Regions from separate parts of the Homo sapiens genome. Here region 1 is linked to region 2. Evidence: fine-mapped expression QTL. A gene starts in region 2. The other region holds a variant in brackets. All regions are shown on one strand. Distances are from middle to middle.

Region 1 (5,385 bases), 31 kb before region 2:
GTACAGTCAGCTTAAATGGTATGCCTCAGGGAGAGCTCTAAGCTACACTTGACTTTAGATTCCCTTGTTAATTCAACAATTAAGACTAATCTGTTACATATTACAACTTATAAAATAGTATTTCCAGCTTTTTTTTTTCAGACAGGGTCTTGTTCTGTTGCCCAGGCTGGAATGCAGTGGTACAATCATAGCTCACCTCTGCCTTGAAGTCCTGGGCTCAAGCAGTCTTCCTGCCTCTGCTTCCTGAGTAGTTGGGACTACAGGTGTGCACTGCCATGTTGCCTGGTCTGGCCTCAAACTCCTGGGCTGAAGCCATCCTCCTGCCTGGTCTCCTAAAGTGTTGGGATTACAAATGTGAGCCACCATGCTCAGGCTATTTCTAAGACTATTATGGCATAATGGGTACTCAATAAATATTTGTTGAAAGAACGAATGAATCAACTTATAGTCTTAGACGGAAAAGACAAAGGATCAGATCTCTTTTTGCTAACCCCAGCACTGGATTGGTGAATGCTGCCTTCTATTTGAAAGTGTGTAAAATTCTTCTTCCAGATATAAACTAAAATCAAAGACTACCTCTGCATGCCATCCCATGAAGCAGTCTGCTGTTGCGATATCAGGTGTGGCTTCCACCACCACTGCCACTATCATCCTACATATTTTTTTTTTTTTTAGACTCTGTCACCCAGAATGGAGTGCAGCGGTGTGATTTTGGCTCACTGCAGCCTCCGCCTCCTGGGTTCAAACAACTATCCTGCCTCAGCTTCCCAAGTAGCTGGGACTATGCCACCATGCCCATGCCACCACACCTGGCTAATTTTTGTATTCTTAGTATTGATGGGGTTTTACCATGTTGGTCAGGCTGGTCTCAAACTCCTGCCTCAAGTGATCTGCCCACCTTGGCCTCCCAAAGTGCTGGGATTACAGGCGTGAGCCATCATGCCCGGCCTTCATCCTACATTTCTCTATTCTTCTTCTGTCTCCTCTTATCAAAATCTGAACTGATCCAGAAATCTTCCAGCCCTTGGTGTGTGTGTGCACATACATACACACACACACACACACATACATATATAGATATGTATGTATTTTCTTGATCTTAGTCCTAATGAAAAACATGTGGAGCATAGCAAGTAATTCCTTCTTATCCTATGAATAGCAATTCAAGGGATGGTTTCCAAGGAATTATTAAAACACACACAAGAATTTACATTATACTCCAGTGGGTAGTAACAAATTGAAAAGTTATCAATGCTTTATAATGTGGGGAAAACTCTGAGTATATAACAATCTTGGGCAGTGAAAAAGAAATAACCCAGATTCCACAGTTTGAACTGCTGACCTTTTTCTGTAGCTGATCAACATTTTTCACCTCACTTAGTTTACTAATTTACTATTTTCTTACGCTAAATTTTGCATCCTTTTGGTATAAAGTGCCAGCATACCCAGAAAATATTTTTGCATTTCACATGCTAGTTAAAATACACCCTCACATAGTTTGTGTCTTTGAAAATAATTTAGTACCCTATGATTAATACACCAGACTCATATAAATATAAATAGACATAAATACACATATATATATGTTTCGTCTTAGTTTCCATCTGAGTTTAACTGAGAAAATCCCCATATAACAAACATATGTACAAGTCCCAGCCAATGATCCATTCTAGACAATGTTAAATAAACCAAATCTGGTTTGGCCAAAGAACTTAGATAGTCCCTTGGAGTTTTCTGCTACATCAGGTGTAACTGAATGTAAAATTTTCTATCTGGAATTTCAGGGGCAATTAAAACTCTTAATAATTCTTTTTCCCTTTGGCTGTACCTTTATTGGTTGGCAATGAATTGGTTGGCTTCTGACCAACATAGGAAAAAAACATACTTTTTTCTCAGAAAACTTGTGATGACAGCTGTCATTTTCCAGCTCTCAGATGCCAATGGGAATTGACCCCAATAGTCATAAGCAATAAATTTCTGTACAGAGAAAATCCTATTAATGGAGGAGCATTTTCCATTAGGAAATTCCTTCTAATAAGAAATAACTAAAAACTACTTACTGTTCTCTTTACAGTGCCCTGTCCCATGACAGGCCCTCATTCCAGGCCCCACCACAGTGATATCTCTATTGTACCACCAGCTCCCCAAAGTGGTGACAGGAGCCCTGGGCCTGAGCTGCAGCAGTGACTCAGCACGCCCCAAATGTCTCCAAGTTTCCAAGGCCACCCCACAGTTGTATAGTAGCTCCAGTCAGGCTCCTGGGGAGGTCTGTCTGACCTCATTACCATGGAGCAAGACAGGATTTTGTAGAACATGCTTTTTTCAGTCTCTTTAAAGAGCACAAGCCAGGACACACAAAGACTAGAAGCTGGTTTCTAGGAAATTTAACCTCTCAAAATATGGGCATCATTGAATGTCCCTGATACAGTCATTCTTCAGCTGCCACTGTCTGAAAACAACATACACAAAAGATGAAAGACAACTTTGAATGACAAGCCCCCGACTCAGGACTAATGATAAGATTATTAAAGTCACACATCAGCCTACCAGAAGCAAAAATTTTCTTCCCTGAAAGAGTTGAGAAGTGTCACTGTCCAGTGAGGCATTTATTTTCAAACTAAATCCAGTTAAGAAGCTGGGCTGCTGGCCATAACTCCTACAGAAACTAACGTATACTTCTGTGCCTCTGACAGCCCGGCCCAGTGATGAGTACACAGTTGTAATTGAATTGCATTTGATGTTGTTTGCACTAACACAGCACCAGACTTCAGGACAAACCACAGCTCTGCAGAGCAGAGTTCTGGCCCACTCTCCCCCCACCTCACCCCCCGTGGCTTGGGTCTGCCCTTGTTGTCCTGACCTGCCGGAGGTTTCATCAGCATTACCTCTGACTCATACTTCGCATTCAAGAGCAAGATGAATTCGCTAGCAATGAGTACCTGGAAGAGGGCCAGACTATTGGTACTAAAGCAGTGCTGGCCCCAACACAGCTCGCTGGGCCAGACGTTGATGGGAAATGGCTGACAGCAGGATAAACAAGCAGCT[C/T]CCTTTTTGGTGAGCTTCAGGGGAATCAGGTGGACAGAATCAAGGCTTCAGGTATGCTCTTCAGAGGCTCTGTGGAGTGGTGGGAGGCTGTAAAACAGCACTGGAGATGGTTGTGGTTCTCCCCCAGCAAAAGCACCGGCAGGAAGAAAGGCAGATTGGCAAACAGTGTGGGCCCACAGTGCGAGCCAGGGGAGAAGCCATCAGGTGACACATCAAGCCGTGAGAGGCAGCTGGTCAGGGACCCCTCAGTTCCCCACCGTCCTGCAGAGACATGGGGGGCAGTGTCCGTGCCTCCCTCCCTCACCACCTGAGCTGCTCCACAAGAAATTCTGAGCGCCACTGGGCAAGTAGAGGGAACCAAATGCCTCAAGATGGAGAAGAGTGCAAGGTCTAACTAGCAGTACTGTGGAAGAGCAACACAGACAAGAGGTGTAGAATTAGCTGGGCAGGGTGTATGGGTTCCTTCCGGTGCCTGCATACCTGAGAAGAAGTCATTCGTTGAGCTTAGTTTAGGTTTTAAGGCAGTTTTGGTGTTTGAGGCTTATTTAGCACACATAAGTCCAAGGTAGCATCAGACAGAATTATAAACTTCATGTGACTTTTCAAAACAACCCAGTGAGCCCATTGTTAGCAAATAGCAGTCAGCCGAGATAAGCGGCCATTCTAGGAGCAAAGGCACTTGTGCCAGGAAAACAAGAACAAGCACGAGCAAGAAGCAGGGCAATGCAATCCACAAACACAATTCATGCTTTACAGCTGTGAGACAATGCTTCTTTTGCTTGGACCTCAGGCTCTGCAAACTGCAGCACAGAGGAGGGTAAGTGTGCAGTGGCCCCTAGAGAAGAGTGGTCAGTAATGAAATTGCACCCCACTTTACTTGCCCCTTTGTGTTCCTGGGTCACTGCCAGGCTGTCCCAATCCTGCAACATGTGGAAAGCCAGTGTGTTCAGATGGAATAGTAGGGGATGCAACCTAAAGAGATTACTAGTAAGATTTTCCAGAAAAAGAAAAATAACTATTTTTTAAGCATGAGCAGGGGTGGGGAGGGGTGGGGGGAAGAAAGTTTCTTTGTTTCTCATTGGAAAGCTTTGCAAGCTATTGACTTATTGAGGAAAATCAGGACAATTGGGTACACAGCTTTGACTTCTGGTGATTTCTGACACTTTCCTCGAAAGCCTATCACTCCACACTGAGGGCCCCAGGATTGACTGTTTTACAGAAGCTCTTATGTATTGAGGTCCTGTATGAACTGGACCCATGTAAGATGGGGAGTGGTGACAAACGTTGGCTCAACCTCAATTGTGAGATTATGGTTCAAGGTTATTTTCTTAGAGATAGTGAGTCTTCAGAAAACCTTTGAGTAAAGGCAAATGAAAGGCTTGTGTCTAAAAACAGGCTTCCAAAAGTGGAAATAGGACACAGGAAGTGGAGAGTCGGAAAACAAAACAAAACAGATGAGCTGGAATGAGAAGAGTAGAGAGAGAAGTAGAAAGACAGGGAGAGACTCTGTAAGGAAAGCTGTGAAGGAAAAGGATTGCAGCCTCTTGGCTTTATTTTCAGTTAGTGCCTCATACAATTCACGAGGTGAGGCTCCCACACATTCTGGCCTGTTCTCCCCAATTATGGGGGTGGGGAGGTAAATGAACTACACCCAGACTTCTTGCAGCTGTCACCTCAATATCAGGTATCTGCGAGGTGGGGAGAGAGGTGGGAGGATTGGTAAGGGGCTGTATAATTACTGGGAACTCCAGCCAATGTAACACATGGTTATGTGGGCCTATGTAGTTAGGTTTCACTATCCCTATTGACTGTGCCAGACCCTGAACTAAATACTGGAGTGTCGAGATCAAGAAGGCATGATTCCCGCCCTTAGGAGTGCACCATCAAAGGAGGTGAGGAGTGCATCTCCTCACAGGAGGAGACAGATGAGTAAACTGAACATTTTGATTCAGTACGTTTTGGGATACAGGTAGGAACCAGAGCTGCAGGGCCAGGGGAAGGGGGCACCTCCCCCAAAGGCAAAGGTCCTATCCTCGGTCCCACAGAACAGCTTACAAGACTCCTCCTCAGGTGCAGCTGGTTCGGAGGGTACGGTCGTCTCCAGCTGTCTCCTACATCGTCTCTATTTTCTCACTGGCTCCTTCTAGTCTAGGTCTCTCCAATCCTATACACATCGTTTCCAGCTCTGTTATGCCTTCAGGCTACTGGCTGAGACTTTTTCTTTTACTGCTAAAGCATAGCATACATTTTCCTGCATTTCCTCCCTACCCTCTCATTTTTCACCCACGCCTTGATGTCAAGTTCCTCTCTGTACCACTTTATCATAATCTCCCTCTTGAA
Region 2 (5,385 bases):
GCCACAAAATATCAAACCCAAGATCCTAGTTTTGGGTCTTGTTTGTTTGTAAGGGTGGAAGGATTTCACATCTTATTTTGTACTTACTGTGTTCCCAGCAGCTTTTGTTTTGCTCACATCTCACACAGAGCATACTCAATTCAGTGAACTAATTTGGTTGTATGGTAAGCACTGCAGAGAAGCTATGAAAAAAAGTCACAATCGGGAAGGTAGAAAAGGTCTTCCAAGGATGCACTGAATCTGTTACATATACTCTGGGGCCTCCGAGTTTTCTGGGAAAAAACAAAAGCAAAACAGTGGCTGGGAAACCAGCTTAGTACATAGGTATTAAAGCATGGAACAGCTTCTTTTGACTAGTTTAAGAGGAAGCCATAAAGCACAAGTTCTTGGAATTATGCCAGCAAAAAGTGTAACCCTTTTATTTATGGGGGCATTCATCAGAACTGGGCCTTTGTGAGCCTACCCCAGACTGTGGTCACTTGGTTTAGTCAGTTGCTGACTTCTCTGAGAGAACACATCCCCTTTTAGCAGAAATAAGGAGCAAGGAGAACCACTGGGTAGTGACTATCACAGTGATTCCCATTGGAAACCAACCCACGAAAGCCCTGTAAAGAATAGCCCTCCTGTATTCCATGCCAGTGAGTGATACTTACACACAGGACGGGTGAGACAACATGGATCCACAAACACCTGGTTTACTTATATTGGCCATGATGGTGCCCTCAGGACAAACCACAGATAGAGATCTACCCAAGGAATTCCTGAGTTCATAGGCTGACCGTGTCCTTTGATCCCCAACCCAGCCATTTCTATATGACCTCTGTTGTTGTCCCAACTGAACCCCATTCTTCTCTCTTTTGTGGTTGTAAGGATGAAAAACTTGATGACTTCTTTCTCTTCATCATGGCTACTTCTCAGAATGTCTTGCTGACCACGTCATTGTTGCCTGATTCTATTGATCTAATAAAATCTATTTCTATCAACAAAATATAACTATGTGTGACCACATATTTATACCTTTTCACAAATGGAACTTCTTACAAATAGATTTCCCATCCATGTTAACTTATTAAGTAAAATTTTCCTGTTTTTTAATAAAATAAGTTTTCCTAATCTCAAATACTATCCAACAGATGTTAGTCACAAACATACATCATAAGTGGGAAAGTATTATAATAAAGCTCATTAGTGCTGTTTATTTACCTTTCAAATGCTATTGAATTTTTACATGAGTTTCTCTATAAGTTCATTAGTTGTTATTAAGAAATAAATATATGATTGAATTTTCCAAATATATTTGAATTTCATAGTTTAGCATTTCATACGAGAGAAATAATCAGCCAATGTTTTTGCCTGCTGTTTCCATGAAGATTTCATTTATCTTAGAAGTGATTAATATAGAATGACTATAAATAATATAAATTTAAATAGAATATACTTTTTTTTTTGCTATGTTGTTTGTTAGGCTTTACAATGTTGTAAAAAAACTGTAACAATCCTCTCAGACTGGAATTTTTCTTTATCAAACTTTTCCTCCATTTTCAGGAAGGAACAATGATTCAGAAGTCTTGTAGATTAGTCACTTCTTAAGAAGTTAGATCATTCAGTACTGCATCTTAGCCAACTGTCCAAGGTCAGCAAAATGCACAGCATGTTCTGTTTGATGGCCCCAGGCAGAAAGCCACAGCATTCAAACTATTAATATCTCCTGACCTTTCAACTTACAAATAGAAGCATCCTTGTGGTCATTTTTTTTTCCTGTATATCCCTGAAAAACTAAGGATCTAGGGTTTAAGATAAGAAATACTTAATTTAATTTAATTTAATTAGTTTTTAACCACAATCCTGGGCTTTTATATAAAAGCACACTGTTTATTTCTTTTTTCCTTTTGAGATAGGGTCTCACTCTGTCGCTCAGGCTGGTGTACAATGGTGCGATCTGGGCTCACTGCAACCTCTGCAGCCTGGGCTCAAATGATCCTCCTGCCTCAACTTCCCAAGCACCAGGGACTACAGGCATGCGCCACCATGCCTGGCTAATTGTTGTATTTTGTGTAAAGACAGAGTTTCTCCATGTTGCCCAGGCTGGTCTCGAACTCATGGACTCAAATGATCTGCCTGCCTTAGCCTCCCAAAGTGCTGAGATTACAGACATGAGGTACCGTGCCTGACCACTGTTTATTTGTTTCATAAAATTTTCTTAAACACCAATTATGTGCAAGTTACCATGCCAGGCCTCTGGGAAACAAAGATGAATCAGTCAGATGTACCTGCAAGGAGCTTATGGTCTAACTGGGGAGAAGAAATACAGCAAAATACTATAACATAGGGTAAAAAGTAAGAAGTACCACAAGAGAAGCACAGACAAGATGATTTGGGGGTTCCAAAAAAATAGATTATTAAATTTTGTGGGCTGGCAGCAGAGAGGAAGGAATTGGTAATTAATCTGAGAAGATGACATTTGAGCTTGCTCTTGATGGACAGAATTTAAAATGTAGAGAGGAGATGTAAGTGCAGACATTTCAGATTGAGGAAAGAGCATAATTAAGGGCATGGAGGTCAGAAAACATGGGGTAATAAAAAAAGGTTCAAGTAGTTCAGTTTAGTTAGAGAACATGGTATATGAATTTAAAAAATCACTGAACTAAAATCAGAAAATTACTTTGAGACCAAATCTAGAGGGCTATTAACACCAGATGATAGAGTATGGACTCTATTTTACAGACAGTGGGAGCCCGCTGAAGGGAAATGCCACATTCAACTTATGCTTCAGTGTCGGATTCCATTGGAAAGGGGGCGGTGACTGGAAGTGAGGACACCAACCCATCAGGCGTGCTCTCATTTAGTTTTCTAGCGGAAAAAAAAAAAAAAGCCTGAAGCAAGGATTAAAGTACTGACATTTTATTTGGGAAGCACAAGCCCAGGCCAGGGAAGCTGCAGAAAAAGGAAAAAAGGGAAGTGAGTATAGGAAACAATGCACAGTCATGCCTTGCACAACTGGCTTCTGCTTCGGGATGAGCCATTGGCTGATGAGGCATGGGAGGCTCAGCAGGTCTGTTCCCTTGGCATGTGGGACATCTTGCAGTGGATGCAGGGAGGGACCATGCCTCTAGCATTCTCTGGGAAGAATAAAGGAGAAGTTTATCTTCCCACCTACCTCCCATTGCCTGTTTTTCATTGGTCAAAACTTGTCCCACTAGGAATTAACTCCTTCACATTTCCAAGTTTATATCATATGACTGCTCCAACTACATGGGACCCCAAACCCCAAACCTGATGTATGTATAGTGTTCCTGTTTCATCCAAGCCTGGAAATGAGGGGAAGAGCCAGAACCTCTAGGTGAGTACTAGGTGGCTTGGCAGTGTGTGTGTGTGTGTGTGTGTGTGTGTGTGTGTGTGTGGTTGAGGGGTGGAGAGTTAAGGGGACTTCTAAGGTAAGTCCCTGATTAGTCCCAGCCAGTTGAACTGTGTTGGGCAGGTATGGTGGTTGAGTAGTTGAAGGTCCTAGAAGTGGACAGTGGCCACAGTGTCTAAGGAGGCACAGAAGATTTGTGTTGAGATAATGATTCAAGAGAAAAGAAGGACCCTTCATACTTCAGTCAGAGAAGAATTCTTTTGGTGGGCTATCATGCTCTTGGGTTAAATTCTTTTCTCTGTAACATTATTTAGAAAATCGCCTCCCTCTCAACAATGAAGACTGAGTACCACTGGCTTACAGATATTTCTGTATATTATCTGAGTTAGTAGAGTTTGAGTATCACATTTCTTTCCTTCCAATTCTATGATTTGTCATCATAAAGTTTTGGCATACGCAGCCCAGTCTTTGGAAGAGGGGTTGAGAATTGTGTAATATCAGGTTTAGCATTATAAAGTAACATCTATCATCTGAAGATGAGACTATAAACACCAGTCTGGACATAATAGAGCATGCTTAGCCCACTTGTTTGGAACTACAAGGAAAATAAGGTCATACAAAAGAGCCCTCTGCCCTTAAAAAAGAATTCTCAATTGCAAATCACTTCTGAGTACCAGTGGGGAAATGCAGTCATTTATTCTCAAGACTGAAAAGAGAAAGGAGACCTTTTTATCACTTTGTGTGTGTGTGTGTGTGTGTGTGTGTGTGTGTGTGTGAGAGAGAGAGAGAGAGAGACAGAAAGAAAGAGCAGGAGAGAGAGAGAGACAGAGAGAGAGAATATGTGTGTGTGTTACCTACCTAAAGCTAATGGTAGCCAATTTTTTCCTTTTTTTCTTGGAATTTTTTTCTTAATCTAAAACAGGCTTGGTGCTCTGGAAAAAGAATTAGAATTGCATTCAAATAGTCAGGCTTCAAGTTGCTTCTGCCTCTGTGTGAAGCAAATAGTAACAACTCACTTCGAAACTCAGGCTCCTGGACTGTAAATGAGGATAATGATACTCACCCTACCAACCTCAGGGACTGTTCTAAGAGCAAAATGAAATGAGACTGAGCTCTGAAAATGCTTAAATGCTTTTCAAAGTAGAGTGATCGTGCTTTCTGTAGCATCAAAACAGTCCTCTATAAATGGGCAAAGTCAAGGCATGGACTGGATCTGACAACAGAGAATGGCTTGAGGGCTGGAAAAAGAAAAAAATGCAAATGCCCCAAATCTCTGCTTCCCTTACAGTGTGGAAATCGCCCCATAACACACTGCACCAGGTAGGGTTAAATTGATCCCAAATGTTTCAGGAATTTTTAATGCCCTTCGAAGAGACATTTCCAATTCTTCATCTGCCCAAAGTAATGCTGCTAACCTACTATCTGTCAGTTTCCTCAGTGCTTTGAAGATTTTTCTAAAGTCATCTGACTTGGTTTCCCTTTGATTTCAAATTCCTGCTTATTATATGTATGACCTTGAGCCTTTTTAACTCATCTGAGCCTCTCTGTTTCCTCATCTATAAATTGTGAATAAGAAGACGTTACTGTAGGATTATTAGAAACTTTAGAAATAATACTTTTAATACCAGCATAGTGCCTGATCCATAGGCATCCAGGACATGCCAGCTAAGATCATTGATTATTGTTGTCGTTTTTAGTATCATACAGTAGAAAGAACAACATCTTTGAAACCAGACAATCCCGCATTTAAATCAGCTCTGTCACTTACGAAACGTGTAATCCTGAATAACTGAAGAAAACTTTTTGAAGTTCAATTTTGAGATAATGATGGATGATTTCAGACTTTGTGAGAATTTCAGAGGTATCGGCAGTAGGTTGAATGGTGAACCCTCCAAAAGATATATCTATGTTCCAAACTCAGAATCTGTGAATGTGACATTATTTGGGAAAAGGGGGTTTTGCAGATATAATTAAGTTAAGCATCCTGAGATGAGATCATCCTGGATTTTCTAGATAGGGCCTAAAGCCAA

Which allele goes with the higher level. Positions count from the first base shown, and alleles are read on the strand shown. Sizes are in standard deviations (SD) of each study's normalised expression.
For the expression in adrenal gland of the gene that starts at base 3,022 in region 2, T is the high allele of the variant in region 1 and C is the other (moderate effect, 0.42 SD a copy in GTEx).

Evidence for each region. PIP is the estimated chance that this variant, and not a neighbour inherited with it, causes the effect. A credible set is the group of variants that fine-mapping cannot tell apart.
Region 1: its variant is the best candidate, but not a certain one, in a credible set for the expression of LINC03140 in adrenal gland (GTEx, PIP 0.79).

The regions. Positions count from the first base shown.
Region 1 is chr4:128,599,024-128,604,408 of GRCh38, reverse strand. No RefSeq gene overlaps it. Among named protein-coding and RNA genes, the nearest start is that of LINC03140, 31 kb to the right of the region's middle. The variant C/T (reference allele first, on the strand shown) is at 3,046.
Region 2 is chr4:128,568,180-128,573,564 of GRCh38, reverse strand. It overlaps LINC03140 (long intergenic non-protein coding RNA 3140), which reads left to right and starts at 3,022. Exons shown (of 2, transcript XR_007058268.1): 1 at 3,022-3,340; 2 at 4,278-5,385.